Regions from separate parts of the Homo sapiens genome. Here all the other regions are linked to region 1. Evidence: fine-mapped expression QTL. A gene starts in region 1. Each other region holds a variant in brackets. All regions are shown on one strand. Distances are between the middles of the regions. Region 1 holds the start of STK32B (serine/threonine kinase 32B). Region 2 has its middle 18 kb from the start of CYTL1. Region 3 overlaps STK32B (serine/threonine kinase 32B). Region 4 has its middle 4.6 kb from the start of CYTL1.

The links. PIP is the estimated chance that this variant, and not a neighbour inherited with it, causes the effect.
Region 2: its variant is fine-mapped to the expression of STK32B in whole blood (INTERVAL, PIP 0.92).
Region 3: its variant is fine-mapped to the expression of STK32B in B cells (Fairfax 2012, PIP 0.95).
Region 4: its variant is fine-mapped to the expression of STK32B in whole blood (TOPMed, PIP 0.97). The same link has a PIP of 0.9 or more in blood mononuclear cells.

The regions. Positions count from the first base shown.
Region 1 is chr4:5,046,620-5,054,724 of GRCh38, forward strand. STK32B (serine/threonine kinase 32B) reads left to right here and starts at 4,861. Exons shown (of 12, transcript NM_018401.3): 1 at 4,861-5,296. The coding sequence starts at 5,245. RefSeq lists an enhancer at 5,563-6,101.
Region 2 is chr4:4,997,009-5,005,113 of GRCh38, forward strand. No RefSeq gene overlaps it. Among named protein-coding and RNA genes, the nearest start is that of CYTL1, 18 kb to the right of the region's middle. The variant C/T (reference allele first, on the strand shown) is at 3,542.
Region 3 is chr4:5,413,148-5,421,252 of GRCh38, forward strand. STK32B (serine/threonine kinase 32B) reads left to right here. Exons shown (of 12, transcript NM_018401.3): 6 at 3,698-3,787. Among named protein-coding and RNA genes, the nearest start is that of LINC01587, 110 kb to the right of the region's middle. The variant C/T (reference allele first, on the strand shown) is at 3,665.
Region 4 is chr4:5,019,965-5,028,069 of GRCh38, forward strand. It overlaps a transcript of STK32B not described here. Among named protein-coding and RNA genes, the nearest start is that of CYTL1, 4.6 kb to the left of the region's middle. The variant A/C (reference allele first, on the strand shown) is at 4,950.

The DNA of each region.
Region 1 (8,105 bases):
AGGAACTTAAATAAATTTACAAGAATAAAACAAACAACCACATAAAAACTGGGCAAAGGATATGAACCGACACTTCTCAAAAGAAGACATTTATGCAGCCATCAAACACATGAAAAAAAACTCAACATCAATGCTCGTTAGAGAAATGCAAATCAAAACCACAATGAGATACCATCTCACACCAGTCAGAAGGGTGATTATTAAAAAGTCAAGAAACAATAGATGCTGGTGAGGCTGTGGAGAAACAGGAGCACTTTTACCCTGTTGGTGAGAATGTAAATTAGTTCAACCATTGTGGAAGACAGTATGGTGATTTCTCAACGATCTAGAGTGAGAAATACCATTTGACCCAGCAGTCAAATTATTGGGTATATACCCAAAGGAATATAAATCATTCTACTATAAGGACACATGCACACATATGTTTACTGCAGCACTGTTTACAATAGCAAAATTGTGGAACCAACCCAAATGCCCAACAATGATAAATGGGATAAAGAAAATGTGGTACATATACACCACGGAATGCTATGCAGCCATAAAAAGGAATGAGATCATGTCCTTTGCAGGGACATGGATGAAGCTGGAAGTCATCATTCTCAGCAAACTAACACAGAAACAGAAAACTAAACACCACATGTTCTCACTCATAAGTGGGAGCTGAACAATGAGAACACATGGACACAGGAAGAAGAACAACATACACCAGGGCCTGTTGGGGGGTGGGGGATGAGGGGAGGGAACCTAGAGGAGGGGTCAATAGGTGCAGCAAACCACCACGGCACATGTCTACTTATGTAACAAACCGACACATTCTGCACATGTATCCCGGAACTTAAAGTAAAATAAAAATAAAAATAAAATAAAAGTCCAGAGGTCTGATTGATGGTTAATAGAGAGGGGCATCTCACAATGTTTCTGACAAAATCTCCATTTCAACACATCTGAAACCATCATTCACTCATTCCATCAACGTATATTTGTAAAGTATCAACTCTGTACCAGTGCTGAGCAAGACCCTGGGGACACACAGCCCTGGCTGCCCTGCAGGGCTCCTGGATGACAGGAAAGCCGGGTAGAAATCAGGGAGCAGTGGCAGGTGGTGAGTCAACGCATGACCTGGAGACAGGAGCTTTGCCACTAGGTAGATGTGGGGGTTGAACAGTGGCCCCCAGTAAAATATGTTGAAGTCCTAACCCCTGGAACTGTATGTGTGATCTTATCTGGGAAAACAGTCTTTGCAAATGGTTAAAGATCTTGAGAAGAGATCATGCTGGGATTATCAGGGTGGGCCCTCAATCCAGTAAGTGTCTTTTCAAGAGACAGAGAAGAAATGACACAGGGAGAGAGGAGGTGGCCATGTGAAGATGGTGGTAGAGACCAGAGTTCTCCAGCCTCCACCCAAGGAATGTTTGGAGCCACCAGATGCTGGAAGAAGCATGGAGACTCTGGAGATTGATTTTGACTTCTGGCCTCCAGAATGGTGAGGGAATAATTTTCTGTTTTTTTTTTTTACTTGTTTGTTTTTTGAGACAAAGTCTCACTCTGTTGCCAGGCTGGAGTGCAGTGACGCAATCTTGGCTCACCGCAACCTCCACCTCCCAGGTTCAAGACATTCTCCTGCCTCAGCCTCCTGAGTAGCTGGGATTACAGGCACATACCACCATGCCTGGCTAATTTTTTTTTTTTTTTTTTTTTGAGATGGAGTCTCACTGTTGTTGCCCAGGCTGGAGTGCGATGGCGCGATCTTGGCTCACTGCAACTCTCTGCAGGTTTCAGCAATTCTCCTGCCTCAGCCTCCCGAGTAGCTGAGGTCACAGGTGCCTGCCACCACGCTTGGCTAATATTTGTATTTTTAGTAGAGATGGGGTTTCACCGTGTTGGCTAAGCTGGTCTCGAACTCCTGAGCTTAGGTAATCCACCCACCTTGGCCTCCCAAAGTTCTGGGATTACAGGTGTGAGCCACCGTGCCTGGCCTAATTTTTGTATTTTTAGTAGAGACAGGGTTTCACCATGTTGGCCAGTCTCGAACTCCTGACCTCAAGTGATCCTCCCACCTAGGCCTCCCAAAGTGCTGGGATTATAGGCGTGAAACGCCACACCTGGCCAATTTCTGCATTGAAATCTTAGGTCTTTGCACTTCTCAACCATTTGAGTTGGCTTAGCCTATTTGTGCCCCAGTCTCCTCCAGAGTGGGGATGGTGACACACCTACCTCTCAGGGTTGCTGTGAGGATGAGAAAATCCATGCAGAGCGCTTGAAGTACCAGAGTCAGGCACATTCTCTATGGATGGGGAGCAGAGAAGTGAAGGGGTTGCCGGAGGTCCTAGCACCCTGCAAAGAGTTAGCACAGAGCTGGACATGCAGAGTTCTCAATACACATGCACGCTGTCACTGAACACTGCACTGCAAGACTAATTCCAGCCGTGTGGAACATCTCCCAGCATCTGCAAAGTGTCCCACTCTCTAGGCCTGGAGAACTTTGCACCAGTAGCCTCCTTTCTTCTTCCAACCCGGTTGATTCCTTGCCCTTCCAGTCTCAGCGCCAGCACCCTCTCTGGCCAATGCCTTCTTTTCTTTTGTTTTTTTTTTTTTGAGACGGAGTCTCACTCTGTCACCCAGGTTGGAGTGCAGTGGCACAATCTCAGCTCACTGCAACCTCCGCCTCCCAGGTTCAAGGGATTCTCCCACCTCAGCCTCCCGAGTAGCCGGGATTACAGGTGGGTGACATTTCTGTCATGCGTGTCCGTGTGAAGAGACCACCAAACAGGCTTTGTGTGAGCAATAAAGCTTTTTAATCACCTCAGTGCAGGCGGGCTGAGTCCGAAAAGAGAGTCAGCGAAGAGAGATATGGGTGGGGCAGTTTTATAGGATTTGGGTAGGTTATGGAAAATTAAAGTCAAAGGGGTTCTCTGGGAGGCAGGGGCGAGGGTCACAAGGTGCTCAGTCGGGAGCTTCTGAGCCAGGAGAAGGAATTTCACAAGGTAATGTCATCAGTTAAGGCAGGAACAGGCCATTTTCACTTCTTTTGTGATTCTTCAGTTGCTTCAGGCCATCTGGATGTATATGTGCAGGTCACAGGGGTTATGATGGCTTAGCTTGGGCTCAGAGGCCTGGCAATCACACCCAGCTAAGTTTTGTTTTTTTAGTACAGATGGGGTTTCTCCATATTGGCCAGGCTAGTCTCAAACTCTTGACTTCAGGTGATCCACCCGCCTCAGCCTCCCAAAGTGCTGGGATTACAGGTGTGAGCCCCCACGCCCGGCCTAGCACAATATCAATATATTCCTCATAACAATGTTAGAAAGGGAAAGTTCTCTTATTAGCACCTTCTGGACTCAGATGAAGAAACTGAGTCCAGAACAGGTTAAGTAATTTATCCAAGTTAACTGGCTAATGAGGGGCAAAGCAGAATGAAACCTGGGTAGAATGAGCCCAGAGCCCATGCCTGTCCACATTCCGCCCTATGCTTCTTGAGCTAGGGGCCAGCTCTGTGTTCAGGGCATTGCCTGCTGCACACTGGCTACTCAGTGTATGCTTGTTGGTGGAATGAAAGGCAAGAAATATTTATTCATCATTTATTATATGCCGGGCACTGTTGCCTGCTTTTATAAATATTACCTGATATAATTCTCACAGACAACCCAAGGAGTTAATATCAATCAGCCCACTTTGCAGATAAGAACTCCAAAGTGGGACACATTGCCAGTAAATGGTAGAGCCAGCTCTGGGTCATGGTGGGTGGGCCTGCCTCAGACCTTCTCAGTTCTTTCCCACTGCCTTTAAGAGATTTTTTGTTTTGTTTTGTTTTGTTTTGTTTCTGTATGAGTCTCCCCGGCTTCCCTCACCCTTCTCCCAAGAAAAAGAAAGAAGGGGAGAGAACTGGAGAGAGAGACCAGGTAGGGGACGGGGACTGGGGGACGAGATAGGATGGAGAGAGTCACAAAGAACCCCTGCTTTCTATCAAAGCACGGACAGTGGTTCCAGGCGCCCAGCAGATGGCAGGATGTAGCCAAAGATTCCCTGCAGTCCCGGAGAGCTGGGCCCGCAGGACTGCAAGGCAGGGGGACCTGCCTGTCCCTCAGGGAGCGTCCTGGGAACCCGCGCTCGCCCCACACGTCTTGGGGCGCATCTGCCGCACCCCTTACTTAGGCACCCGCAACTGTGGCGCGTATCTCCCGATCCAGGCTCCCGCCGCAGGAGCCCAGGGACCCTCATGCTAGCCTCGCCCCTAAATCGGACGCCGATGCCGCCCAATTTTGGGGGAATCCCGAGACTCATGCCCAGCCATTCCCAGGGAGAATGGTTTGGGGCAAACTATGGCTGTCTGGGGCCTCAGTTTCCCCATGTACAATGAAGGGGTCAGATTAGTATCTAATCTTAAGGGGTCAGAAAGTAAACAGATACTTTCATTCATTAAACACTGAGAAAAACCTTAAGAGGAACAGCGTCGGTTGGAGAGCCAGCAGACACTCCACTGCCCATCCCAATATGAATGGGCAAATACAGGCTAGCGGGGAGTCCTGGGACTCCCTTCGCAGCCGGGGCCGACTAACCACAGACCTAAGAGCCCCTCTACCTCTAGACCTCCGTCTACTGCGCTCTAAAATATGAACGATGCTTTCTTACTGCTGGGTTGTCGGAGGCGGATGTGGGATGGTGCTAACAAAGCGCGTAGCCGAGGCCTGGCCATAGTGGGTGCTGACAAACCGCTTACTGCCTGCAGGGACCGAGCTCCCGGCCGAGGGAGGAGGGCCGAGCAGGGATTCAGATTCTTCCGGGCCGATCCCTTTCTCAGCTCCTTCCGCCCTGCCGCCGCCCACTGCGTGCTGCCTTCGTCCGTCCCCTCCTCCCCCGCTCCTTCCCCTCCTTCCCCTGCTCCCGCGCCGCCTCGCGTCTCCCGCCCGCTGTAGCCGGCGAGGAGCGCCGCACGTTGGCCCCGGCGCGAGGAGCTCCCGGGTTCCCGGGCGGGCACTGGAGTAAGGAGCTGCGAGCGCAGCCCGAGGCGGGGCACGGCGGAAGGCGCGGCGAGAGCGGGGTCCCTGCGAGCGCAGTCGGAAGGGCGTCCAGGAGAAGGGGGACGCCGTCCCCGCCCCTGCACGGTGCTCGGCCCCCTCGGGCTCCGCGCGCGGCTACAACCCGGACTGGGCGCGCCCCCGGCATCCCGCATCTCTGCGCGCGTCCCACATCCCGCATCCGGCATCCCAGCGGCCGGGCATGTAGCAGCGGCAGCAACGGCGGAATATGGGCGGGAACCACTCCCACAAGCCCCCCGTGTTTGACGAGAATGAGGAAGGTAAGAGAGCGAGAGGTGCGAATTCCCGCTTCGCGGGGCATCCCCTTCCTCCACCACCCTCGGCCGAGCCCTGCGGGGCACCGCATGCTGCCCGGCGCGGGGACCCAGGCATGGCCACTTCGCCCAGCGAATGCAGTGTGTGCCCGACCCGTGCCAGGCGCGGCGCTTCTGCTGAGGCAACTCCTAGGTACCCAGTGCCGTTTAGTAGTCGGGACGGTGCCTAGCGCGGGACTGGGGAGGCGGCTTCAGAGAGTTGAACCCGAAACCTGCACTTGGGGGTGTGGAAGGGAGGAGTTGACTTCGGAGGCCAGTCGGGATGGTTCTAGGCTCGGGCTCCCCAGGAAACCGAGGTTTCCTTGAGAGCCTGAGGCTGACGGAGGTGGCCTGGAAGGGCGGGTTGCACCGTGTGTCTGTGTGTGTGTGCGCGTGCCCACGACGCATTTGGTCTCGTGCAAGGGCCTGTTGGATGCAGCTCTCCTCAATCACCCAGGACAGAGGGAAACTTTTCTTTGCTAAACTCTGTGGTTCCTAGGAGGGCGTCCTGTTCTGGGCAGCCTCCCCCTGGCGCAGAAGTGGTGTAGGCTGTCCAACCGCATCTCAACTTCCTGGCTGGATCCTTGCGGTTCAGGTCGATAGAGCTCCCTATTTGGACTAGCAGAACCCTCTTTCCAGTGCAGCGTGTCCCTGGAAAACTTACTTCACCTCTCTGAAACATTAGTCCCTTCATCAATGAAATGTGAGTTATGATACCACTAGCTACTTTATAGGGTTGTTTGAAGCTTAACCACTAGTAATCCACGTGAAAAGTGCCTTATAAATGCAAGCAGTACCGAGCTGTGCCGTTTTTTATGTTAAGAGCCCTCTGCCTCTCAAAGCTGGTTTCCTACTGTGCTGACTCGCCAGTCTCCACTGTGCCCCAGGTAAGAGCTGAGACATACTGAGCACTTACTATGTTCCAGCCATGCTAGCACATAGTGTTCACTCCATCCTTTTCATGCCCCTTGAGGTGGCTACCTTAGAAAGGGGTCTGTCCTGGTTACTGCTGGTAAGAAGTAGAGCTGGGCTTGAGGCAGGACAGTCTGCTTTGAAAGCTGTGCCTGTCATCATTACCCAGGGCACTGGCTGTGTGCGTACATCATGGATGGCTTCTAGAACTCCCAAGGCTGTGAGTGCTACTCAGATGCCTGCCTGGACAGCCCTTCTCAAAAAGATAGATGAACACAGTCAAGGTTAAGTGAGCACCTGCTGTGTCAGGCCCACGAGAGCCTTCCTTAAAGGAGTTCCTAGTCTAATGGCCCTGAATGACCGTCCATGGTGATAAGGGCATTGAGAAACCAGTGCAGGGTCTTGGGGGCACAGAGAGGCCCCAGCTTTTCCTGATCTTTAGTCTGGAGCATGTGCAGGTGAGCAGGTAAGGAGCCAGTTGTGGACAGAGGAGAGGTGGGCACAGAGGTAATGGAGGCTCTTGCATGTCCCAGTAAGAGTTTGAACACTATGCAGCATCACCCTCAATTGCACGGGCTTGTGGTTCTAGCCTGGGTCAAAGGTCATGCTTTTGCTAATTTTCCTAGCATCTTTCTCTTTTATTTACAGAGGAAATTTGCCACCCTTATATTGAAAACCGTCTCTGTCATTTATCCCCAGCTTGAAAATATTCATTGGCAAAATAGTTATCTCTGGTGTAGCCAACCTTTTGATTTTCCTGTTCCTGTTCCTTATTCTATAAGCAGATTGGGCCTAAGGTTAACTGCCTGTTTCGGTGCTTGTTAAAATACAAGGTTATGAGGCCGGGCGCGGTGGCTCATGCCTGTAATCCCAGTACTTTGGGAGGCCGAGGTGGACGGATCACCTGAGGTCAGGAGAGGCCTGCCTGGCCAACATGATGAAACCCCGACTCTACTAAAAATACAAAAATTAGCCGGGCATGTTGGCGGGAACCTGTAATCCCAGCTACTCAGGAGGCTGAGGCAGGAGAATCGCTTGAACCCGGGAGGCGGAGGTTGCAGTGAGCTGAGATCGCACCATTGCATTCGAGCCTGGGCACCAAGAGTGAAGCTCCATCTCAAAATAAATAAATAAATAAATAAATATAAATAAATATAAGGTTAGGGCTCTCCTCATTTTGCCATTGCCCAGCCCAGTGAAACATTAACTTGTTTGATTTTGCCAGTATGTCTCTCACACGTTTCCTAGTACAGGTAAAACAGTGTTACTTGCCACCAACCGACTCATTTATTTCGTAGGCATTTACTATTTGTATTTTCTGTACCCACCCCTGTGCTGGGGACCGGGAATATGAGGAGGATGAAGGCAAAGTGTTAACAATTTGCTCCCAGAGCAAGTAAACCACCTGGAAAACACAGGGTGTGTAAGTGCCCTGACGTGGGTGAGCTCAGGCGACTGATATCCTGGAGGAGGGTCCCTAACTCAGAGTGGGGGGAGGGATCTGAAAAGGCCTCCTCTTTTAGACTGGCATCTTGCAGAAATGGCAGGAGTTACCTGGGGGGAAGAAGTGGGTGATAGAAGGGGGAAGGACGTTTCAGAGAAAGGGAAGAGTATGTGCAAAGGCAGATGGTAAAGAGTAAGCCTGGCTCATGTGGGGGGATTGAGGGGGCTTAGTACTCCTGCATTGTGGAGTATGAAGCTGAAAGGCACAAAAGATGAACCCTGAATGCCTGGCCGGCCTTAAAGGGCCCAGTGGCCGTGGTCAGGTGTTTGGACTTGATCTTATAGGCATTTTGGAGTCACTGAAGGGTTTTAAGCAGGGAGTGACATGGTCCAGTGAACAAGCTCTCCCAAACCATAGTCA
Region 2 (8,105 bases), 50 kb before region 1:
TCCCACAAGCAGTGTAAAAGTGTTCCTATTTCTCCACAGCCTCAACAGCATTTATTGTTTCCTGACTTTTTAATAATCGCCATTCTGACTGGCTTGAGATGGTATCTCATTGTGGTTTTGATTTGCATTTCTCAGTGATGATGAGCTTTTCTTCACATTTTTCTTGGTCACATAAATGTCTTCTTTTGAGAAGTGCCTGCTCATATCCTTTGCCCACATTTTGAATTTTTTTTTTCTTGTGAATTTGTTTAAGTTCCTTGTAGACTCTGGATATTAGACCTTTGTCAGATGGGTAGATTGCAAACTTTTTCTCCCATTCTGCAGGTTGCCTCTTCACTATGATGCTAGTTTCTGTTGCTGTCCAGAAGCTCTTTAGTTTAATTAGATCCCATTTGTCAATTTTGGCTTTTGTTGCAATTGCTTTTGGTGTTTTAGTCATGAAGTCTTTGCCGATGTCTATGTCCTGAATGGTATTGCCTAGGTTTTCTTCAAGGCTTTTATGATTTTTAGTTTTACATTTAAGTCCTTAACCCATCTCAAGTTAATTTTTGTATAGGGTGTAAGGAAGGTGTCCAGTTTCAGTTTTCTGCATATGGCTAGCCAGTTTTCCCAGCACCATTTATTAAATAGGGACTCCTTTCCCCATTGCTTGTTTTAGTCAGGTTTGTTGAAGATCAGATGCTTGTAGGTGTGAGGTGTTATTTCTGAGGTATCTATTCTGTTTCATTTGTCTATATGACTGTTTTGGTACCAATACCATGCTACTTTGGTTACTGTAGCCTTGTAGTATAGTTTGAAGTCAGGTAGTGTGATGCCTCCAGCTTTGTTCTTTTTGCTTAGGATTGTCTTGGCTATATGGGCTCTTTTTGGGTTCCATATGAAATTTAAAGTAGGTTTTTCTAATTCTGTGAAGAAAGTCGATAGCTTGATGGGAATAGCATTGAATCTATAAGTTACTTTGGGCAGTATGGCCATTTTCATGATATTGATTCTTCCTATCCACAAGCATGGAATTTTTTTTCCATTTGTTTGTGTCCTCTCATTTCCTTGAGCAGTGGTTTGTAGTTTTCCTTGAAGAGGTCCTTCACATTCCTTGTAAGTTGTATTCCTAGATATTTTATTCTCTTTGTAGCAATTGTGAATGGGAGTTCACTCATGATTTGGCTCTCTGTTTGTCTATTATTGGTATATAGGAATGCTTGTGATTTTTGCACATTGATTTTGTATCCTGAGACTTTGCCGAAGTTGCTTATCAGCTTAAGCCGTTTTGGGGCAGAGACAATGGGGTTTTCTAAATACAGAATCATGCCATCTGCAAACAGAAACGATTTGACTTCCCCTCTTCCTATTTGAATACCCTTTATTTCTTTCTCTTGCCTGATTGCCCTGGCCAGAACTTCCAATACTATGTTGAATAGGAGTGGCGAGAGAAGGCATCCTTACGCCAGTTTTCAAAGGGAATGCTTCCAGCTTTGGCCTATTCAGTATGATATTGGCTATGGGTTTGTCATAAATAGCTCTTATTATTTTGAGATATGCTCCATCAATGCCTAGTATATTGAGAGTTTTTAAAATGAAGGAATGTTGAATTTTATCGAAGGCCTTTTCTGCATCTGCTGAGATAATCATGTGGTTTTTGTCATTGGTTCTGTTTATCTGATGGATTACATTTATTGATTTGCATATGTTGAACCAGCCTTGCATCCCAGGGATGAAGCCAACTTGATTGTAGTGGATAAGCTTTTTGATGTACTGCTGGATTTGGTTTGCCAGTATTTTATTGAGGATTTTTGCATCAATTTTCATCGGGGATATTGGCCTGAAGTTTTCTTTTTTTGTTGTGTCTCTCCCCAGTTTTGGTATCAGGATGATGCTGGCCTCATAAAATGAGTTAGGGAGGAGTCCCTCTTTTTCAATTGTTTGGAATAGTTTCAGAAGGAATGGTACCAGCTCCTCTTTGTACCTCTGGTAGAATTTGGCTGTGAATCCGTCTGGTTCTGGGCTTTTTTGTGTTGGTAGGCTATTAATTACTACCTCAGTTTCAGAACTTGTTATTGGTCTATTCATGGATTCAACTTCTCCTGGTTTAGTCTTGGGAGGGTGTATGTATCCAGAAATTTATCCATTTCTTCTATATTTTCTAGTTTATCTGCATAGAGGTGTTTATAGAATTCTCTGGTGGTAGTTTGTATTTCTGTGGGATCAGTGGTGATATCCCCTTTATCATTTTTATTGTGTCTATATCATTCTTCTCTCTCTATTTCTTTATTAGTCTAGCTACCAGTCTATTTTGTTAATTAAAAAAGAACAGTTCCTGGATTCATTGATTTTTTGAAGGGTTTTTTGTGTCTCTATCTCCTCCAGTTCTGCTCTGATCTTAGTTATTTCTTGTCTTCTGCTAGCTTTTGAATTTGTTTGCTCTTGCTTCTCTAGTTATTTTAATTGTGATGTTAGGGTGTCGATTTCAGATCTTTCCAGTTTTCTGACATGGGCATTAATTCTATAAATTTCCCTCTTAACACTGTGTTAGCTGTGTCCCAGAGATTCTGGTACATTGTCTCTTTGTTCTCATTGGTTTCAAAGAACTTATTCATTTCTGCCTTAATTCCATTACTTACCCAAGTGTAATTCAGGAGCAGGTTGTTCAATTTCCATGTAGTTGTGCAGTTTTGAGTGAGTTTCTTAATCCTGAGTTCTAATGTGATTGCACTGTGATCTGAGAAACTGTTTGTTATGATTTTCATTCTTTTGCATTTGTTGAGGAGTGTTACTTCCAAGTATGTGGTCAATTTAGAATAAGTACTACATGGTGCTGAGAATGTATATGCTGTTGATTTAGGGTGCAAAATTCTGGAGATGTCTATTAGGTCCACTTGATCCAGAGCTGAGTTCGAGTCCTGAATATCCTTGTTAATTTTTTGTCTCATTGATGTGTCTAATGTTGACAGTGGGTGTTAAAGTCTCCCACTATTATTGTGTAAGAGCCTAAGTCTCTTTGTAGGTTTCAAAGAACTTGTTTTATGAATCTATGTGCTCCTGTATTTGGTGCATGTATATTTAGGATAGTTAGCTGTTCTCTTGTTGCATTGATCCCTTTACCATTATGTAATGCCCTTCTTTGTCATTTTCGATCTTTGTTGGTTTAAAGCCTCTTTTATCAGAGACTAGGATTGCAACTCCTGCTCTTTTTGCTTCCCATTTGCTTGGTAAATATTCCCCCATTCCTTTATTTTGAGCCTATGTGTGTCTTTGCGTGTGTGATAGGTCTCCCGAATACAGCACACCCATGAGTCTTGACTCTTTATTCAATTTGCCAGTCTGTGCCTTGTAATTGGGGCATTTATCCCATTGACATTTAAGGTTAATATTGTTACGTGTGAATTTGATCCTGTCATCATGATGCTAGCTGGTTATTTTGCACATTAGTTGATGCAGTTTCTTCACAGTGTCGTTGGTCTTTATATTTTGATGTGTTTTTGCAGTGGCTGGTACTGGTCTTTCCTTTCCACATTTAGTACTTCCTTCAGGATCTCTTGCAAGG[C/T]AGGGCTGGTGGTGACAAAATGCATCAGCATTTGCTTGTCTGTAAAGGATTTTATTTTTCCTTTGCTTATGAAGCTTAGTTTGGCTGGATAGGAAATTCTGGGTTGAAAACTCTTTAAGAATGTTGAATATTGGCCCCCATTCTCTTCTGGCTTGTAGGGTTTCTTCATAGAGATCCACTGTTAGTCTGATGAGCTTCCCTTTGTAGGTGACCTGACCTTTCTCTCTGGCTGCCCTTAACATTTTTGCCTTCATTTCAACCTTGGAGAATCTGATGAGTATGTGTCTTGGGGTTGATCCTCTCATGGATTATGTTAGTAGTGTTCTCTGTATTTCCTGAATTTGAATGTTGGCCTGCTTTGCTAGGTTGGGGGTGTTCTCCTGGATAATATCCTGAAGTGTGTTTTCCAACTTGGGTCCATTCTTCCCATCACTGTTAGGTACACCAGTCAATCGTAGGTTTGGTCTTTTCACACAGTCCCATATTTCTTGGAGGCTTTGCTTGTTCCTGTTCATTCTCTTTTTCTCTAATCTTGTCTTCATGCCTTATTTCAGCAAGGTGGTCTTCAATCTCTGATATCCTTTCTTCTGCTTGATTGATTCAGCTATTGATACTTGTGTATGCTTCAAGAAGCTCTCATGCTGTGTTTTCTTGGCTCCATCAGGTCATCTGGTTATTCTAGTTAGCAGTTCCTGTAACATTTTATCAAGGTTCTTAGCTCCTTTGCATTGGGTTAGAACATGCTCCTTTAGCTCAGAGGAGTTCATTATTACCCACCTTCTGAAGTCTACTTCTGTCAATTCATCAATCTCATTCTCTGTCCAGTTTTGCGCCCTTGCTGGAGAGAAGTTGCGATCATTTGAAGGAGAAGAGGCATTCTGGCTTTTGGAATTTTCAGCCTTTTTGCACTGGTTTTTCCTCATCATGGATTTATCTACCTTTGATCTTGGAGGCTGATGACCTTTGGATGGGGTTTTTATGTGTGAATCTTTTTTGTTAATGTTGTCGTTGCTGCTTTCTTTTGTTAGTTTTTCTTCTAATGGTCAGGCCCCTCTTCTGCAGGTCTGCTGCAGTTTGCTGGAGGTCCACTCCAGACCCTGTTCACCTGGATATCACCAATGGCAGCTGCAAAACCACAAAGATTGCTGCCTGCTCCTTCCTCTGGAAGCTTCGTCCCAGAGGGGCACCAGCCTGATGCCAGCTGGAGCTCTCCTATATGAGGTGTCTGTCAACCCCTGCTGGGAGGTCTCTCCAAGTTAGGAGGCACGGGGGTCAGGGACCCACTTGAGAGGCAGGAGGCAATCTGACCTTAGCAGAGCTGGGGCGCTGCGCTGGGAGAATCCCCGTTGGCAGGATCAGCTGCTCTCTTCAGAGCCAGCAGGCAGGAAGATTAAGTCCGCTGAAGCTGGGTCTGCAGCTGCCCATCCCCTCAGGTGCTCTGTCCCAGGGAGATGGGGGTTTTATCTATAAGCCCCTGACTGGGGCTGCTGCCTTTCTTTCAGAGATGCCCTGCCCAGTGAGGAAGAATCTAAAGAAGCAGTCTGGCCACAGCCGCTTTGTCATGCTGGGGTGAATTCCACCCAGTCCAAACCTCCCAGTCTCCTTAGCAAGGAGTGCATCTTCTTAAGTCTGGATATTGTCTTGTGCCTGGCACTAAGCCATGTGATAGCCCTCAGGCTGGCTCACATAGCCACACCATCCATCTACTATGCCCTTCCTGCCCCTCTTTTATTTGTCTGGCAATTCAGGGTGTCCTCTTCTGTCCTCCCCTCCAGGAAGTCTTCCTGCATCAGGCCCTTTGTTGGTAACTGGGGAGTTCTGTGCTCATGGTTCATCCAACCAAGGAAGACTGCTTTCCACACTGCTCTCTACAGAACAGCTGCGTCCTTTCGCCAGGTCCACCGCAGGCCTTTGCTCCACTTTGTGAGGCCTGACGTGTGCCCACTTTTTGATACCACTGTCTCCTATGTGATACCACTGCACAGTCAATGGGTTTGTCCTATTTTTTGTTTTTGTTTTTGTTTTTTGTTTTTTGACCAAGAAGCAGCCAGTAGGTTGGAAGACTTCAGGGTCAAAACAATCCTCACTCCATGCAGCTGGAGGCCTCCTGTGGAACCCCATGAAGTATCCCCAGCTCTCCTCTGCCTGCTGCCCCAGCCACCCACCCACCTAGGGGTGGTAGCAGTTAACCATCTCACTCCCAAAACACAGGACACAAGAGAACTTTGTAAAACAATCTTTGAAAACATGGAGGCAGGGCCAGGCGTGTTGGCTCACATCTATAATCCCAACACTTTGGGAGGTCGAGGCAGGCAGATCGCTTGAGGCCAGGAGTTCGAGACCACCCTGGCCAACATAGCAAAACCCTATCTCTCTAAAAACCCAAAATTAGCCGGGTATGGTGGCATGCACCTGTAATCCAGCTATTCGGGAGGTGGAGGCACGAGAATTGCTTGAACTCAGGAGGCAGAGGTTGCAGTGAGCCAAGATTGTGCCACTGCACTCCAGCCTGGGCAACAGAGCGAGACTCTGTCTCAAAAGAAGAAAAGAAAAGAAAACATGGAGGCAGGAGGGAGTAGGGTTATTCCACAGCTGAGAGACCAAGGCACTTGGCGGGAAGAGCCTTGTGTTCAAACTAGAGGAAGTGGTCCAAAGCCTGCTTCTGCCAGACACCTGTGCCTTCAGGTGAGCCACATCACTGTCTAAAAATCCCATTTCATTGTAATCTTTAGGATGGGAGATATCCACTGTGTTCTGAACACATCTTTCATTCATTTTGCATTTTGAAACACAAGGTGTAACATCAGCCACCATGTCTGTCCATGTTCTGTAAACTGCAGGGCATTAGAGAAAAAATAGAGGTGCAGTGAAGATGGGGGTGGCCCACAGGTCTGAAGCTGGACTGGGGAGGGGCGGCGGCTCCTTCCTCTAATGCATCCCCACTCTGAAGGGGAGACTTATTCCTCGGGCCCAGTCTCCTTGGAGGAAGCACCACCTGTGGCCAGAGATAAGCAGAAGCTATAAATCCATTTTACAGAAGTCACTCAAACAACAAGTGTGGCTTTATGACATCTGGGCTCCCCCTCCCAAGCCAGGCTGCAGTGCAAGAGAGGCCAGGCCAGATGTGAGAGGCTTATCAGCGATTTCAGGTGGTCTGCAACACTGATAAGAGGCTGACGACACCACAGCCACGGAGGGCCGGGGAGTGAGACGAGGCCATGCTGGCTGGGGTCTCAGCTCAGCAGGCCAACAGGAGTGGAGGGTGTCCTCTCCCTGGTGGCCCGTAACCCTCTGCACTGATCCTCCTCAGAACAGGTTTTCAATTTGTCACCAGGGTACTATGGCCCCAGGTAAATTCTCCAGCGTCAAAACTGTGCATACAAATTAATTTTCTTTGCTAGATAAGTGTCTTAGCCATGATATTATGCCTTCAGAAGAGGAATTGCTGTATTTGACTAATTTTACAGTAAACAGTTCCTTCATTGTTTTCCCACTTTTAATCAAAAGAACACTTAAAAAAGTAAAATACGCTGCTTGAAGGTGTGAACTCGCGGAATGATTGCAGACCTTTCCATGTGCAGCTGAGCAGAGGAGAGATGGTTTGGGAGGGAAGAATGGGGGGTCAGGTGCTGGGGGTTTGGAAAGTGTAAGAGGCAGAGCCTTGGAGACCCCATGGATACACAGGGGTGGAACTCAGAGGGTTGGTCCAGAATTACAGACTTGTGCATGGAGAGGGGAGAAAAGAGGAAGGATGGAGGGAGGGGAGGGCTGACTAGTCTGGTGGGAACAGCCCATTGAGTCCATGGCTGGGGAAGGGAATTCTCACAAGTGGCTGAAGACGTGAACGCAAAGGGAACACAGAGTGAAAATCCACACCCAACAGCAAAGGATAAAGAGCCAGGGGACAGCAGGGACAGACAAACCAGCAGGGATGCCTAGAGAACGATTTCAAGGCCTGGGATGCTTCAACCTTTATTTTTTTCTCCTTTCCTCAGGGAGCAGGTAGGATGCCAGGATGGGACTCGCATCTGCTCTGGTTGATGAGGCGCTGTGAGGATGGCAGGGAATGTTCTTCCCTCAGGAGGTGAGGAGAAGGTCTCTCACTCCCACAGCTTCTTCTGGTACTTTCTGGTAGATTAGCCCAAGACCCCTGCTTTCGGTGAGTGGATGGCCAGCAGGGGAGGGGTGGGCCCGGGAGGCCATTGACTATCCCAGCACACCTTGAGGAGGGATGGGGGTTGCGGGTCAGGGGAGGGGACTCGCGCTTTGGAGGTTCTACAGCTGAGCAGCTGTGTGGCTCCAGGCTGGTCTCTCTACCTCTCTGAGCCTCGTGAGCAATTGTCTAAGCTCCAGGCCTGCCCCTCAAACTCCTAAAGGCACATGTCAGTCCTGAAAAGCCCCCCAAAGGGTCTCATCAGGGAATCCCTCCACACGTGGAAAGAGCTGGAGCTCAGGGTCTGGAGACAGAATTCTACCACTTTTATGGCTGATCTGGCCTCAGCAAATTACTGAACCTCTTTGAATATCACTCTACCCCAAAGGCTGTCTCTGGTTTTGTTTTAAA
Region 3 (8,105 bases), 370 kb after region 1:
CTATAACTACCCCACAAGGCCCTATTAATATTATCCCCTTCTTACAGTTGAGGAATCTGAGGCTTTCAGAGCTTAAATAACCTGTCTAAGTCACATAGTCAGTAAGGGTCTGCATCAGTTGGGATACTAGCAGTAGCAAGGAACAAAGAGCCCAACTTAAACAGTCCTAGATAGTAAAGGGTATTTTTTAGCTGAAGTTCAGTGGAATCAGGCTTCAGGCAGGCTTTGATCAGGCTCTGGCACCATTTCTCTGCTATACTTGAAGCTCTGCCTTCTCCATGGACAGCCTACATCTTTATGCTGTTTTTCCTTGTGGTCGCAAATAGCTTCTGCAGTTCTAGGGAATCATATCCATGCATGACACTGTCCAAAGACAAAGGATATCATTTTGGGTAGCTCCTGAAAATTGGAAAATTATAAGAGAAACAACACTTAAAACAAAATTAACATTATTTGCATTTTTAAAACTTCTTTATAGCAAAAGGCACTATAAACAAAGTCAAAACACAAACAATAGGCTAGGAGAAAATATTTGCAATACACATAGCAGAGAAAAGGGCAAATGTATCTTGAAGACAAGGAGCTCCCAGTGAAAACTGACCAAGGGTCTGAGAGGCTGATCACATGGGAAACGGGCAGCCTCCTCTGCAGCGAGGTAACATTTCTCACCATATAACTTGCAAAACAAAACCACTGATAACAACTAGTGCTGGCAAAGTGCAGAGAAATACACATGCTCATATTCTGTTTATAGTGCCATCAATTATAACTTTTTGGAACATAATATGCGTACCCTTGGTCCCAGCAATCCCACTTCTGGGGATTTACTCAAAATAAAAGTACTAACATGTAAAGATATATTCAGGAATTCTTGTCACATATTCTATAGTAACAAGACAAACAATTAAGCAAGCAAAATTGGAAACAACCTGAATACCCATAATAGGGAATTGCTGAATAAATGATACATTGTATGATACAGACATCCTATGGAATACTGTGTAACTATAGGTCCATGGCTTCTTATCTGAAACCCTTGGGGCAGATATGTTTTCATAATTTAGAATTTTTTTCAGATGTAAAAATTCATTTATATTAAATAACATATATGATAATAATATAAAATAACGTGTTTAACACAATATGTAATAATATCTTAAATAATATATTTTTATACTATGTAATACTCCATACAGGTTTGGAGGAACACCTTGTAATCAAATACATTAATATTTCTACCGCAAAACGTGGATATTCATCCAAAATGGAATAAATAAAACTAAAAAAGAATGTTTCGGGTCAAATCTTACCACCAAAATAATTGTGGAAAAAATTGGACTTAGAATGGAGGATAAAGGATTGTGGATGTCATAGATAGACCTATGTATACTAGCTTGGGGGACATTGGGGAGCACTGTGGGTATATATTCTTAGGCACACTCCATGATACATGGCTAAATTCAAAAGTAATTTTTAGAGTGACCCATGCAGTATGATCTCATTTGGTTTGCAAGAACAAACCAAAGCCCCCATATATATGGATATACATTTGCATAAGCAAAGAGAAATCATATATACATTTGCATAAGCAAAGAGAAATCATGGAGGAGCCAGATGAATTGTGTGATTGATTACATGGGGGTGGGAGAGACATTGAGGGGCTTAAAGGGGTAACCCAAAAACATGTCTGTATTCTTTCACTTATTTTAATGAGCTGGCATCACTTTCATAATGAAAATACCAAACTTTTGAAAGAGGGAGAAGGCGCAAGAAAACCAAACAAAAACCATATTTGAAGGCTTCATAGTCCTCTTCCAATGCTGACATGTGTCACTCTGTTTGGAACTGTGTGGGTGTGGGGTACAGCAGTGACTACAACATACACTCACCTTCACATGCCTCAAAGTGCAAAACAGTAATGAGTTTGCTTTCTTGTTGGTATTAGAAATAAGGGAATAGGAGGGTGCAGGAGATAGATTTGTCCTGGCTGGAGAAGATGGGTTTTGAGCCACTCCTCGGCAGGATAATAATGCTAAAAGCAAACACTTATGAGAAGCTTCTCTACTTTCTGCATGTCACCATCACTCTAACCGTTTCATGTGTATAAACTCCCTGATTTCTGCGACAGCCTTCTGAGATGGGTATTTTATTATCATCATCCCATTTTATAGGTGAGGAAACTGAAGCCCAGGGAGATTAAATTATTTGCCCAAGGTTATACAGCTACTCCCAACAAAGCTGAGGCCCAAACCAAGGCAGTCTGGCTCAGAGTGTGTGCACCCAACTACTACTACACACTGCCACTTTTCAGACAGGACCATGGATGGTTGAATAGAGACATACTCATCGCAGCCACAGGGAGGGGCCTGAGGAAGCCCCAGAGGCTAAAGTAGCCTGGGTATGTTCTAGGAATGTTGCCTAGGTAGGAATACTGTGCATCCCAGCAAAGACCTGGTTGGGTGACTTCAGCTTCATCCACAAGTATCTGAAGAGTATTATGGATCCTCACTGAATAAATACCTTGCTGCTGCATCTCACCTAGGATCACTGGACAGATAGTTGGCTGAGCAGCTTGCTCACATGTCAGTGCTGGCAGTTGAGTCTGAGATTAGAGGGTGGTATGTTAAACTGCTGGTGCTTTTTTTGTCCACTGTAGCCGATCACATCAGGCATGCCCCTCCCATATGTAGTCCCATGGGCTTCTCAGCATGCCTCAATGCACCTGCTCCAGAATGTGTTTTCCCATCTCTTGGTGATGCCTTCCAAGTCCCTCAAAGTCAATTTTGCATGTGCCACCCATCTATGCATTTAAGTCCCACATGCCAAATGCCACTCTTAGGTTTGGTGAAAATCCAGCCAGCCATTTTCACATGATGTGATGACAGACAAATAGAGAGAAATGTAATTGCAGTTATAACTATTATCCAAGGCTTTCTGAGCTGGAGTCTTATATGTACCAAATTCCCCAAAAAGCAAGTACTGACCAAAATTTCCCAAAAAACAAGTACTGACCATTTGGGTGTTTCCTTCCTCCCTGTCCCCTTCCTTCCTTCTCTTCTGTTTCCCTCTTTTATCTGCACATCACTTAGTTTCCTTCCCTTCTTCTCTTTCCCTTTTCCTTCCTTGTCATGTTTCTTGAACACCTACTTTGTAGGTGCACCCAGCCTATCCATGCCCATCTGCTGCCATCACTTCATCCTGGATGGAAGGTGGTCTCAACACCACAGCCTTCTCCCTACTAAATTCCTCAATTACAGTACTAAGGTCTCCAATGACCATAGCGGACAAACAGCAGAACAAACAGTGTCCTCTGGGTGGGAGAATCCTCTTCACCTACCCCCGCCCCAGCCATAGCCCACCTACAGTTTTCCTGAGAGAAGGCGTCTGGAGTGACCTGTCTCAGTTATTTCTAGGAGCTTTAATTCTCCACATCAGTGTCTCCAAACTTTTAATTCATAAAAAATGTATCCTGCCCCTCAATATATTTATGTAAAAATAATATGCATAAGTTACCAAATGAATTTACATTCTGAAACATGCACACAAAATAAACATTTTTAAAGTATCAGATACGATAGTATTATAAATAGAAGTTCTAATGTTTTCTTCACGGTATCTCACCTTGCAAACCACAGCTTTAAATAACCCAGCTGCCTGCAGCCCA[C/T]GCTAACTGGAGTTTCTGTTTCTGTATTTGCAGGACATGTTCACATTACAGACTTCAACATAGCGACGGTAGTGAAAGGAGCAGAAAGGGCTTCCTCCATGGCTGGCACCAAGCCCTACATGGGTGAGTGTTCCAGGCCCCTTCTTTTCATGTGATCGGGCTCACTGCCTAAGACTCAGCATCCTTCTCTTGTTTCATCTGCCACTGCCCGCTGCCACATACCCTCCCATGCTCACATGAGGTTCCACAGTTCCCAGTAGATACAATGCTCCCTCGAAGCTCTGGACCTTTTCCAAGCTGTCTCCTCTGCTAGACAACCCCTCTCCTCTTGGTTTTCTAGAGAACTCCTGCTCAGCCAGAGAGCCATGGCTCAGGCTTGAGAGGGTGGCAAACAAAACAAGTATTTTCTTTTCCATTTATGTTCAGTATTTTCCAGAATTTAACTTGGTGGTGGTCATTCTAGGTCTACATTCTTAGGCACACAGTGTTCTTTCAATGTGTAGTTTTAAATGGTTTTTTAAGGAATTTTTATGGGATTATTGTTTTTAGTTTGCATTCTGTTCTCTTGTTTTTATCTTCTTGGTTATGGATGCCTCTTATCTGAATGCTGGATCTTCTTTGCCAATCTTCAGCATTTGTCAGTGTCCCTCAAATCTTTATTACCTCTTCCTTCATTTCTTTAAAAATGTTCTCATTGTTATATTTCTCTTCTCCCAAGGCATTATCTATTGTGTTTATTTGTTTTGTGTGTTTTCTACTGAAGTCTTCATTTCTGAAATCATTTTCCCTTTATTTCTTTCTCCCTAAGTTCTCCCACCTGATTTCTGAGTTTTTTATTCTAATTAATGTTGTTTTTCAGGTCTTATATAATTTTGTTAATATCTTTATTACGTGTTAATTCTGAATGTCTATATTGTTATCAATTACTGTGTAACAAACTGTGTCAAAACATAGTGGTTTAAGACAATCACAACGTTATTTCTCACAATTCTTTTGGTTGACCAAGTGGTTTTTCCTCAGGTTTGGCTGGGCTCACTCATGAAGACGCATTCAACTGGTAGGTCAGCTGGGAGCTAGGTTCAGCTAGGACAGCTGAGATGAACATATCATTCTTTCTCTATGTGGTCTTTCATCATCAAAGTGGCTAGAGTGAGCTTCCTCACATGCAGTTTCAAGATGGTAGAGCCAGTTCTCCCATGCTTCTCAGGACTCTGCCTGCTTCACATTTCCTGGTGTTCTGTTGGCCAAGGCAAGTCACATAGCCAACCACGTGGAAGGGAACTGCATGGAGCATGGCTATCAGAAGGCTGATGCACTGGGGAACCATTAATGAAACAACCCATCACTGTGTCTTTTAACTCTTTTGAAACGTAGGCTATAGTTTCATTCTGTTTTATCAGCACATCTTTCTGTGTGTTTTTATTGCAATGATGTTATTCTGCTCTTCATTCTCCTTTTACTTATAATAACTTGGTATGGAATTTGACTTTGATACTTTTCTGTTGCTCTTTTGTTTCAGTAATTGTTGATGATTATTAATATATCATATGCATGAGTTTTATGCCTAGATAATCCCCATTTACCATTGCAAATGATATAAGAAATACATGTTTAAGGCTAGAAAATGTAATCAGTGCTGCACAAAGGTGCACAAACATTTAAAGCCCATATTTCTCCATACCTTTCTTCCAATGGTTACTGCTATTAATGTTTTTCTTTTATTTTCCTTTTTCAAATGGAAGAAGGAGGCCTTAGGAAGCATAGAATCTGATAACTGGATGAAGCATTTATAGGCGGTACCTAACCAGAGGTACAACTTTTGCCGCAGAAAACTAACCACTGGGATGAGGAGTCCACCATCTTGGCTGAACTCTCTGCTGCTGTCTGTCATTCAGCAGTGAAAATGCCCTGTTCCCAGTTTGGCCTCACTTAACTCTGGCCAGGTTGTGCCTTATAAGGCACTGTATATTGAATTAAACAACCAAAATCTTTCTTCCCTGACCGCATAAACAGTGCCTAAAACCGCCTGGAGGAGTTAGAGTTGCACATGGGTATTGCAGTGGGGGAGGAGGCTTAGTTTGGACATGGTGGAGGGTTTGAATTCCACATGGCCTGAGGAAGAAGAGACCTCCCTGAGCCCTTGGCAAAGCCTAAATTCCAATCTATCTTCATGAACACTAGGTTTTTGGGGATCGGCTATAACTTTCTTATTGTCTTCCTTACAGATATAAAAAGAAATGACTATTTCCCTGGAAGGATAAATTCCACCTTTAGACTTGAGATCAAAATAGAGCCAGCTGAGGGGCCTCCAGCAAGAGAGAGGGGTAGAAATTGCTCATTTTATGTGAACTTTGTTTTTCTAAACTTTTAGAAGATGGTGTGGTTCAGGATAGCGTTCCTAACTTAACAGACCTATCTGTTGTATTGTTTGGTGAAGTGTCAAAATCTAAGGCAGCTTGCTATCCAGGTTTCCTGGCTTTGTTCTCCTCTCCCATTTTTATCTGGAGTTCTTCTTTCCTTTGTCTGTAGGGTCTCTGTCCTGAGGCAGTTTGGTTCTACTTCACACAGTTTTTCCTTGGGGCTTTTTCCTGGAAGGAGTTGTGGCTGGGTGGATTATAGACTTTTGATGTCCCAGACTCTTCAGTCTCCTTCAGAATTTATCAAGAGCCCTTTCAATGCCCCTGATACTAGACTGTACAAACTCCTACCAGCTTCAGCCGCTGTTCTCAAAGTCGTTGTCTGTGTTTCCCAGTGAATACCTGCTGAGTATTTTGGAGTTCTTTGTTTTCTGGTCCATAGAATGCTGCTTTGTTGCTTCTCTTGGTTTCTTTCCGTGTAGAAATCACTACCATGCGCTTCTTGTCACTGTTGTGTTTTGCTGCTACCCACCTGTATTTTGAGGGTTGTAAGGAGAACTTATTTTTGTAGCAAATGCATCCATGAGTTTTTGGTTTAGTGATCTATTTGCTCTGTTTTATATGCAGATTTGGGGAGATTCAAAATCTATACCATCATATCCCTAGAATCCACTACTCATGTCATTAATCTTTGATTTATTAAATAAATAGAATAAATGAAGTTTGACTATAAATACCTGCAATGGTATAAATAATAGGCAACTTGTTTTTGGGTATTTACTATATGTCAGGTACCGAGCTAAGTGCTTTCCACCTATAATTTCATTTAACATGAAGACAGGCACATTAACTATAACCTATAACTTCTTTTAATGCCCTCGAACATGAAATAGACACAAGTATTTCTTTCCATTTTAGAGTTAAGGAAATGGAGGCTTAGGAGGTTGGGTGACTTCCCCATGTTGACATTGTTGGCAAGAGTCAGACCCAGGTCAATGTGACTCCAAAACCCAAGCTCTGAAGTACATCTCAACCTGGACTCCCATGACAGCAACTCCTTTTTAGCAAAAATACCAGCAGATATCCATATAAGTGAATTCATTCACTTATAAGTAGTCTTCATGGGAGCCTGAACACTTACTCCAACAAGGCTTTTTTTGTTGACGACCTTTCTGAGATCGCTTTCTGGAAGGACCTGGAGCTGGGGCAAGTCTGACCAAAGAGGTCACTGCCTTGAGATTCAAGAGAGATCAACTGGGCGAGATTCAGCAACTGATGGGATGGAGAATGGGGGCAACGGCAACTTCTCGGGTCTCTGGATTGTGCAGCAGAGTGGTGCTCACTCTGTAGGGGACCCAGCAAGAGCAGTAGGTTTGTGAAGTGGCATGATGCAGACTGGACATGTGGATGGAGAACCTGCCAGCACTGAGATGCAGCACAGCCATGGAAGTGGACAGGATCCCCCAAGGAGGATGCAGGAAGGCAGAGAACCGATTCTGAGGCTCAAGAATGCTGTGCTGGAAGGGGCACGTGGAGGCTGAGGGGGACATCCCACAGGGGAGTGCTGAGAAGAGAGATGCCAGGTAAGGGCAGCAGCTCCCATTAGAAGCCTCCTCTGTATTCCTACCGATTCGTTCTGACTGCTTTCATGCTGTTTCCGAAAAGCAAATTGATGTCAAGGAGTGTAGATCCTGGACCACTGGAGAAGTTCGAGACAGTTTTTTTGTTTTGTTTTGTTTTGTTTTTTTAAGACAGAGTTTCACTCTTGTCACCCAAGCTAGAGTATAATGGCATGATCTTGGCTCACTGCAACCTCTGCCTCCCAGGTTCAGGCGATTCTCCTGCCTCAGCCTCCCAAGTAGCTGGGATTACAGGCACATGCCACCATGCCTGGCTAATTTTTGTATCTTGTTTTTGTTTTTGTTTTTGTTTTTGTTTTGAGACAGAGTCTTGCTCTGTTGCCCAGCCTGGAGTGCAGTGGCGTGATCTCTGCTCACTGCAAACTCCACCTCCTGGGTTCATGCCATTCTCCTGCCTTAGCCTCCCAAGTAGCTGGGACTACAGGCACCCGCCACCACGCCTGG
Region 4 (8,105 bases), 27 kb before region 1:
ACCGGTGTCCTCGTCCATCAATCGCTAACCAGGTAGGTGAGCCTTGGGCCAGGGCCCCCAGCCTCTCAGAAGCCGTGTGTGTCTCTCGGTCCGGAGGATGGGCTCACTGAGCGGCCGTATGTGTGGGGAGTGTGAGTACCCCCACCCTCTTCTACCTCAAGCTCCCAGCACAGGCCCCGAGGGAGAGCAGACCCTCAGGAAGGGTTAGTTTTCAAGAAGTGCATCTCCCTCAGGGCTAACTTCCCAAGACAGTGGCAGGTAAAGGTCTAGGCTCTCCACTTAGACGCCGTGGGTGCAAAGCAGGGTCACCGCCTTCTGGCTTTGACCTTGGGCAAGTTTCTTCAGTGTTTCCTCCATCTCCTTATCTGTGAGATGAGGCTGGTGAGAGTGGCTCACTCAAAAGGCCATAGTGAGGAATCAACAGGATATAGCATGACTGAGCAAGCCTCATGCCAGGCCCATTGTGTGTTTCCAAGTGATCGGAGCTAATAGCACTGTCTCTGTTAAATCCAGCAATTGTCTCTGTGAGGTAGGTGCCACAGAAAAGAGTCCCATTTTCCAGGTGGGAAAACTGAGGCTCAAGAGTTCCAGCAACTTGCTGGAGGTCACAAAGCTGGAGGCACATGGGTTGGGATGAGACTTCAGGCCCTGTCCTCCTGCCATTCTTCCATCCCACAGGGCAGGATGGGTGAGGAGCAGGACTCTTGCAGGCAGAGATGAGTTGGGGTCCTCAGGCTGCCCAAGATCAGGCAACAAGCAAGAAGGAACTGTCAAAAGGGAGAAGATTCTTCCTTAACACTGAACATGACTTACATACCAGCAGCCACCAGGCCAGCTGCCATTGGGAACGCTATGACCCTCACAGCCAGCCAATGAAGTGAATGGGGTTATTCCCAATTCCCAGGCGAGGAAACTGAGGGCCTCGGGGGATGTGAAGCTGGGAAGAGCAGTGGAGCCCTGGAGCTATGTCTGGACTTTCCTGCCTCCAAAGCTTCCTCCAACAAAGGAGGAAAGGGGAGCATCCTGGGCAAGCTCCACATTCCCAGAACAAAACAACCAAAGATGCAGCCCACAGGGATGGGTGAACCAGAGCATGGCATCCTGGACACAGGGCTGGACTGAGGATCAACCACAGGGATGAAGCCCGGCTCCAGCTTGTCCCCACTGTATTTGCCAGGAGAAATCCCTTCTCGACCTGGCCTCCATTCCCTGTCTGTAAACAGGATAGCATCACGCTGGGCGATGTCTGAGGTTCCTTCCAGCCCCAGTGTTTTATTTATCTAGTTTCTGGTGGTAAAAGCCCTGGGCAGGGACTGTAAGCTGTGCCTTCCTGTTTTGTAGGTGAGAATGTGTTCTCTAAACACCTTTAGCAAGATGACATAGGGACCGCGGCCTTCGGGCAGAACTGTGTGTGCTTGGAGGTGGCAAGTGGAGGCACAGATGTGTTTTCTTCTGGGTGAAGGAGTCTCCACACTCCCTCCATGATAGTGCCTGGGGCATGGGCCTCCCTGGCAGAATAGCTGGCCCCAGCTGGGGACTCTAGGTCTGCTTTAAAATGCTCTAGGGCTTCTGGATGTGCTCAAGGAATGGGCTTAAATTCAGAGCAGGGAAGAAAAACAAGCCCATGGACCAAACAAGTCCTGCACCATTAGATCAAGGAGACATTGCTGTGCTGGAAAACAGGAGTCATTTGTGAGATAAATGTACTGCTGGGAGACTTGACCTTGTTCCACCCGCAATACCGTGTGTGGTTATTCATGGGACTTCTTGGGTAAATCAGCTGAGCTCAGAGCTGCAAAGAGGCTTATAGGCCTTCCCATTGAGCATGAGAATGAATGAGTAAGTGGCTGTAGCCATAAGCTGTCACTGGTACCAACTGAGATATGGTGGATGCTGGGCCCCTGAGGAGTCACAGTCAGTGGGGAGACAAGGAATGAGGCTGTTGTGCACTGGGCCAGGTGCAAGAGAATCGCCACCTCTCACTCTACCAAGCCAGGAGTGGGATGAATGGGAAGAACACCAGAGGAGAGGGTGCCTCGTGCTGATTCCCAGGGCAGGTGGAGACAAGGAGAAACAGCCTGTGCCGAGCCCAACACACACAAGCTTGCCTGCCGAGCCCAATGCATGCCAGTGTGCATCCGGGAATTCTATCTGCTTTCTGGCCCTCTCCAGGGTTCCTCCGCATCCTATGCATGATACATTGACTTGCCTCCTGGCATCTGTCTCCTTTAATGACCATGCCCTTCTCTAGGAGAGAAAGACAGTCTTTCTCATCTGTTTCTCGGCACCCAGCACGCAGCCAGGTAGAGCGGATGACCAGTAAGGTGTGGCTGAATGGACTTGGTGACTACTCGTGTTACTCAGAGATTAAGGCACAAGCCCACTAAGAAACCTACGCAGGACAGCCTGACGTGGCTCCCCACCAGGGGCTCCCTATGAGACGCCGCACTGGATACAGGCTGGTGGACCCCCGCACGTGTGTTCTGTTCTCAAATGTCTCCTTCACCACGAATCACCTGCATCCTCCCACCAGCTCTTTCTCTGCCCCCTTCTGAGGCTCCTTCAGCAGTTGGCTGCTCCGAATATTAAAAATCCAGGCAGGAATTTGCCCACAAATCAGGTAAGCCCTTGTCTCCGCCAAAAGGTCTCTTCTGGTTTTCTTAATGTCTTACATCGGGCACGGACCCCATCATGCAGGAGAGCTGAAGAGTCAGAGTTAACGAGCAGGTGAACATCTCTGAGGTAGATATCGGCCATTGCCTTTGGATGGGTTCTTCATTTGCCAGATGCATGTCTATCTATTTATCGAGAGTCTGTTGTGTGCCAGGCACTGAGATGGGTGAAAAGACAGTGAATGACAGAGTTGCTATCCTCTCGGAGGAGATTGATGAGGGCAGCTGACACTCTGGGTGAGTGGTGTGATGGCAGAAATCCTAGTGTTTCTGGAGCCCCTAACCCATCACTGGCAGCTGCTCCCTATCAGGTGAGAGCTGAGAGGTGACGAATGCAGTGGGGAAGCGGGGTAGGTATGAAGGCATGTGTGTGTGTGTGTGTGTATATGTGTGTGTTTGTGTGTGTCTCTGTGAAAGACAGAGAGTGAGGGAGATTGTAAGATATTGTGCTGCTGGCTTTGAAGATGGGAGAAGAGGCCACAAGCCAAGGAATTCAGGAGGCCTCTAGAATGCAAAGAAAGATTCCTGCCTAGGGCCTCCAAAACGGGCCCAGTTAGACCCCTTCTGAGCCCGGAATTGTAAGATCATAAATTCGTGATGCTTGGAGTCCCTCGGTTTGTGGTGATTTGTTACAGCAGCCACAGGAAACAAGCATACTGTCTCTCTGGGGTTTGGTAGAATAACAGAAATTAATGTGGGAACCTAGAAATTATCCAGATCTACCTGCCTGCTGCTTATCCTTCCTTTACAGTCTCCCTGTCAAGTGCTTGTCCAGAGTCTGCTTGCATACGTCCCTGGACAGGGAGCTCTTTGCCTCTTACAACTTCCTTCCAGTCTCTGGGCAGCTCCAAATTCTTCCCAGGGTGGAGATGAGATGCGATGACACCCTGGTGCAGGCCTTCAAATCCTGTACCTTCTTATGCAGAACGGAGGTGTGGCGATGTTAAGACCATTCTCATTCTTCAATGTCTCTACCTCCACTCCTCCCTGCCCCTCAAAACAGAGTCAACTCTCTTTTGGAGCTACCATCCCCACTTCGTGAACCCTTTTAATGAGAAGTGGCCTCAAGACCCTTCAATTACATCACGATTAACGCCTCTCTGTCTAGAGCCCTATCTCCTCCCGGTGGCCATTTCTAAAGCAGAAATTCAATCTTGCTCCTCCTTGTTTCAAAGTCTCCCTGGCTCCCAGACACAAACCCTGCTGTGTGTCCATGAGTCTTACACTATGTGGGACCCAGACTGGAACACAACCCTTCCTGGGAGATCTGGTCAGAATGAGGCTATCAGTTTTGAGCCTTTCCTATGTCAGTTAGGACTGTAGGCTGTGTGTTACAGAAAATTCAGCATGAGACACCAAAGTCTGGGTTTTCTGGAAAGTGCAATTTGAAAATATAGAGGGAATCTGGAGCTCAGGAATGGTTTGATCCAGGAACTCAATGAAGTCACTAAGGAATTATCTCTTTCTCTGTTCTATATTGTGATAGTGTTTTCATGTGTCATCTTGACTAGGCTACCATCCTCAGTTATTCTAACACTAATCCAGATGTTACTGTGATGGTATTTGTAGATGTAATTAGAGTCCTTATGCAATAAGCTCTATGTAAGGGAGATGATTTTAGATACTCTGGGTAGGCCTGATTTACTCAGTTGGAAGGTCTTAAGAGCACAGCCAAGGCTTCCCTGAGGAAGAAAGAGTTCTGCCTGTGGAGTAGCTTTGTCTGTTCTGGTGATTCCAGTTTGCACTTCCTGAAAGCCTACCCTACTACAATTTTGTACTTGGCCAATGTCCACAATCATGCAAGCCAATTCCTTGTACTAAATCTCTTAATATCTCTCTGCCACTGGTCATGCTTCTTGGGTTGAGCTCTAACTGACACATATACCATTAGCTCCATCCCAAAGCCAGGCCCTGTCCTGAGAAGTAGGGTCTCCCTTGTGACCACTGAAGAAAGTCCTGAGCTTTGTGCTGGAAGCGGACCCTGCCTATGCCCTGTCCAAGCCTCCTCAGCCCTGACATTTAAGGGCAGGTGGGCTAGGCTTCACCTGCCAGCACCACCCTCTGCGACAGGCCTTCCTCTGGCCATAGGTGCCTGTTCTGCCCACGTTAGAGCAAGCCAGAGTATTGGGGACTCTTAATGCCTCCCAGAAGTAGCCCTCAACCGATGATTCATGAAAGTTGGGAAGAGTCTGGCTTCTGGTTAAAAATCTGTATGTCATCCATGGGCAGTTACAACGGCTTTACACAACAGGCCCCCAAGGGGATCGGGGGAGCTGC[A/C]CCCCCAACCCCAGGCTTGGGACACAGCCAGAGCTTTGCATGCAATCTCTGAAGGGAGTTGCTGTAAAATGCTCAGGCCCCCAGGCTGGCCAAACCCTTTACCTATTTGCCTGGCACCTTCATTCGTGGGTCTCTTTATCTGAGGACTTGGGCCAGGTCCTCCCCAGGCGCCTCTGCAGAGACCTCCGAGTATGGGAGGGGGGAATCCTTGACACCCTTCCCCCTTCTCTGACTCAGGACCCAGCACTTTTCTACTCGGGGCTGTTTCCCTGCCTCCCCCTCCGCCGTGGTCCATAGACCAGCAGGAACCTTTTGTTGGGGCTCCCTCAACAGTGAGACGACCCCCACCTCCACATCTATGCTGGTCCACTTGATCCCCCATAGTGATGTGAGGATGTGAGGAAGCACCCGTCCAGGGGGGAGGTGGAACGGGGGAGCTGGGCTTCCTCTAGTTTGGCCTCTTCCTTAGACCATTGCAGTGAGTGACCAAAGGCTTAACTCTCATTTTTGGCTCTTGCTTTAACTTGGCTGCTTAGACACCTGCAGCTCAGCTCTGTCTCAGCTCAGCTGAGCTCCTAACTCATTGGTGTGTAAATATCCCTACTCCTTTACCCTGTTGGTGGGATAACTCTGAGGTGAATTCTACAGTGTCTCCGAAAGTCCCCCAGCAGGATCAAGCTCTAGGGGTCCACAGTGAGAACTTGCTTGATGGTAATCCATGGATGTATTGGCTTTCTGTCCTTCTCTGTCTCATGTTCCCATTTCTCTACAAGTGTTTTCTGGGCTTGCTCTCAAAGAAACGTCTTGCACTCAAATCCTTGTCTCAGAGTCAGCTTTTGGGGAAACTCAAACTCAGACTATGGTACTGGCCCAACAGAGGAGTCCCCTCTAAACTATGACAAGAACAATGTGATCACACATATTGGCCTAGCCCACTAATGGGCCATGAAGGTGAGACACCCTGGGATGGGGTAAGTGAGGTGGGGCGGAGACATTACCACAATGTGAAGTACGCTTGTCTCTTTCTCTAACACAGCCCAGGGTGGTCCAGGACACCATGTCCCATGACCGACACCTCTCTTAAGCCGCCTCCCTTCCAGGCCTCCACGACTCCCTCCCAGTGCAGACCTTATCCCAGCAGCAGACATACACATGATGAGGAGATCCTTCCAGCAGATACCAAACCTCAGCTGCCCATTGCTTAAGTACCTTCTGTTTTCTTCTTGTGATCTAATATTTTCAGGATCTGAGACTTTTAAAAATCATTTCAGGAGAAAGAGCATTTAACCCTTTCCTGCAAGCTGTTCAGACAGGCATATTCCAATAAGTGATACAGGTAACCAGGGAAATACTCTTGGTTTTCAGTCCTGAGGGGTTATGGGATGTTCCCAGTTGTATTAGTCCAATCTCATGTATTAGTCCAATCCCAAGACTGGGTAATTTATAGGAAAAGAGGTTTAATTGATTCCCAGTTCTGCATGGCTGGGGAGGCCTCAGGAAACTTACAATCACGGCAGAAGGCATCTCTTAGCAAGGTGGCAGGAGAGAGAATAAGAACCGAGCAAAGGGGGAATCCCCTTATAAAACCATCAGATCTTGTGAGAACTCACTCACCATCATGAGAACAGTATAAGGGAAACCACTCCCATGATTCAGTTATCTCCACTTGTTCATGCTCTCGACACATGGGGATTATTACAATTCAAGGGGAGATTTGGGTGGGGACAGAGAGCCAAACCATATCACCAGTGAACTGTAAGAAACAGCAACCTGCTGTTGGCTGTGGCCTCTTGTGACATGGCTGGAACACAGACTATCACCTCTCCTGCCTGCTCCCTGTGTTCCCATCCTGTGCCCACTTGTGATGGAAACCCAGGCTGAAATGGACATCACCATTCTCAAATGTCCTCTGTTGCCCAACCTGCAGCCAATAGCTGTCTTTGACAAGGATTAGAAGAGTCCAGCAGCAGCTTCCATCTTTTTTAGAAAACATTGCACTAGACCACACGAAGAGTCTGAGTGCTAAGGTAAGAGCCTAGCATTGAACACATCAACGCTTGCAAAGAGGCTACCTCTTGTTCCCTCACTTCTGCCTGCATTTGAGGTCAGGAGCCACTAATCAAGCTGACAGCCAGGAGGTGTTGGGGTTGGGGTAGACTGAATACCTAGCCGGACATTGCCTCTGGTGCTCCTGTTGATATTGGTATTCCTTTGGTTAAAAGTAACACATCTTCCCCTGTTTATGTGATGTGTTTTTGAGCTTGTTGCTTTTGCTCTTGGCAAACCCAGGTGGAAAGTTGGCCCACATGGCCCAGAGTGAAGGAATGAACACAAACACCAAGGCTGGGCTTTGCTTTTGGGCAGAGATTATGAAAAGCGATTCATGTTTTAGAAGAGAGATTCCTTCATAAGCCCCCAAAACATGGATTTGAACTTTAATGAGAAACAGCAGGCAGGAGGAGCTGTGTCCCAAACATTGCCCCAGGCCTGGTACACAGAAAGGACTCAGAGAAAGTCCTTCAAGAAGGGTCCCAGCTTGTCCTAGGAGAAAAACTACAGGCTTTGGAGTAATACAGACTTCAGTTTAGATCTCACTTATGTTACCATGCAGCTGTGCAAATGTGGCCATTACTCATCCTCCTTTGATGTGGGGTTTATACCACTTATTGCACAGTTTTTGTGAAGAAGAAATAAACATGAAAAGCTGGAGTGACTGTGGTTTTGGTTTTTGTTCTTTCTGGTTATCAACCCTGTTCCATAATCCCATCTTGGTCTACTTCCTCCCTCCTGTTACAGGAGTGATGATGGGCCCATGGCTCAGGAGGGACTAATCAGTGTCTCTACCTGGTGTTGAAAGATGCACACAGGATGAGAGCTGCCCTCTCATGCCCCTACCATGGCTATGCTGTCGTTGCCAGCAGTTAAGTCTTTTGCTCTGGAGTGTGCAAGACCAGGAGGTACACAAGCAGAGCTGGGAGATGGATGGAGGAAGAGGATCTGAAGGGGCTGCATCCCTGCTTCCAGATCCAGAGGCTGAGACCTGCGTCTCCTTCTTGGACATCATCAGCTGCCCTGCGGTCATTTCTGGCTGCAGAGCTAATGCAGAGTTCCTTCAGCTTGAGCTGATTTCAGTGAGGTTTCTTTCTGTCCCTGGCA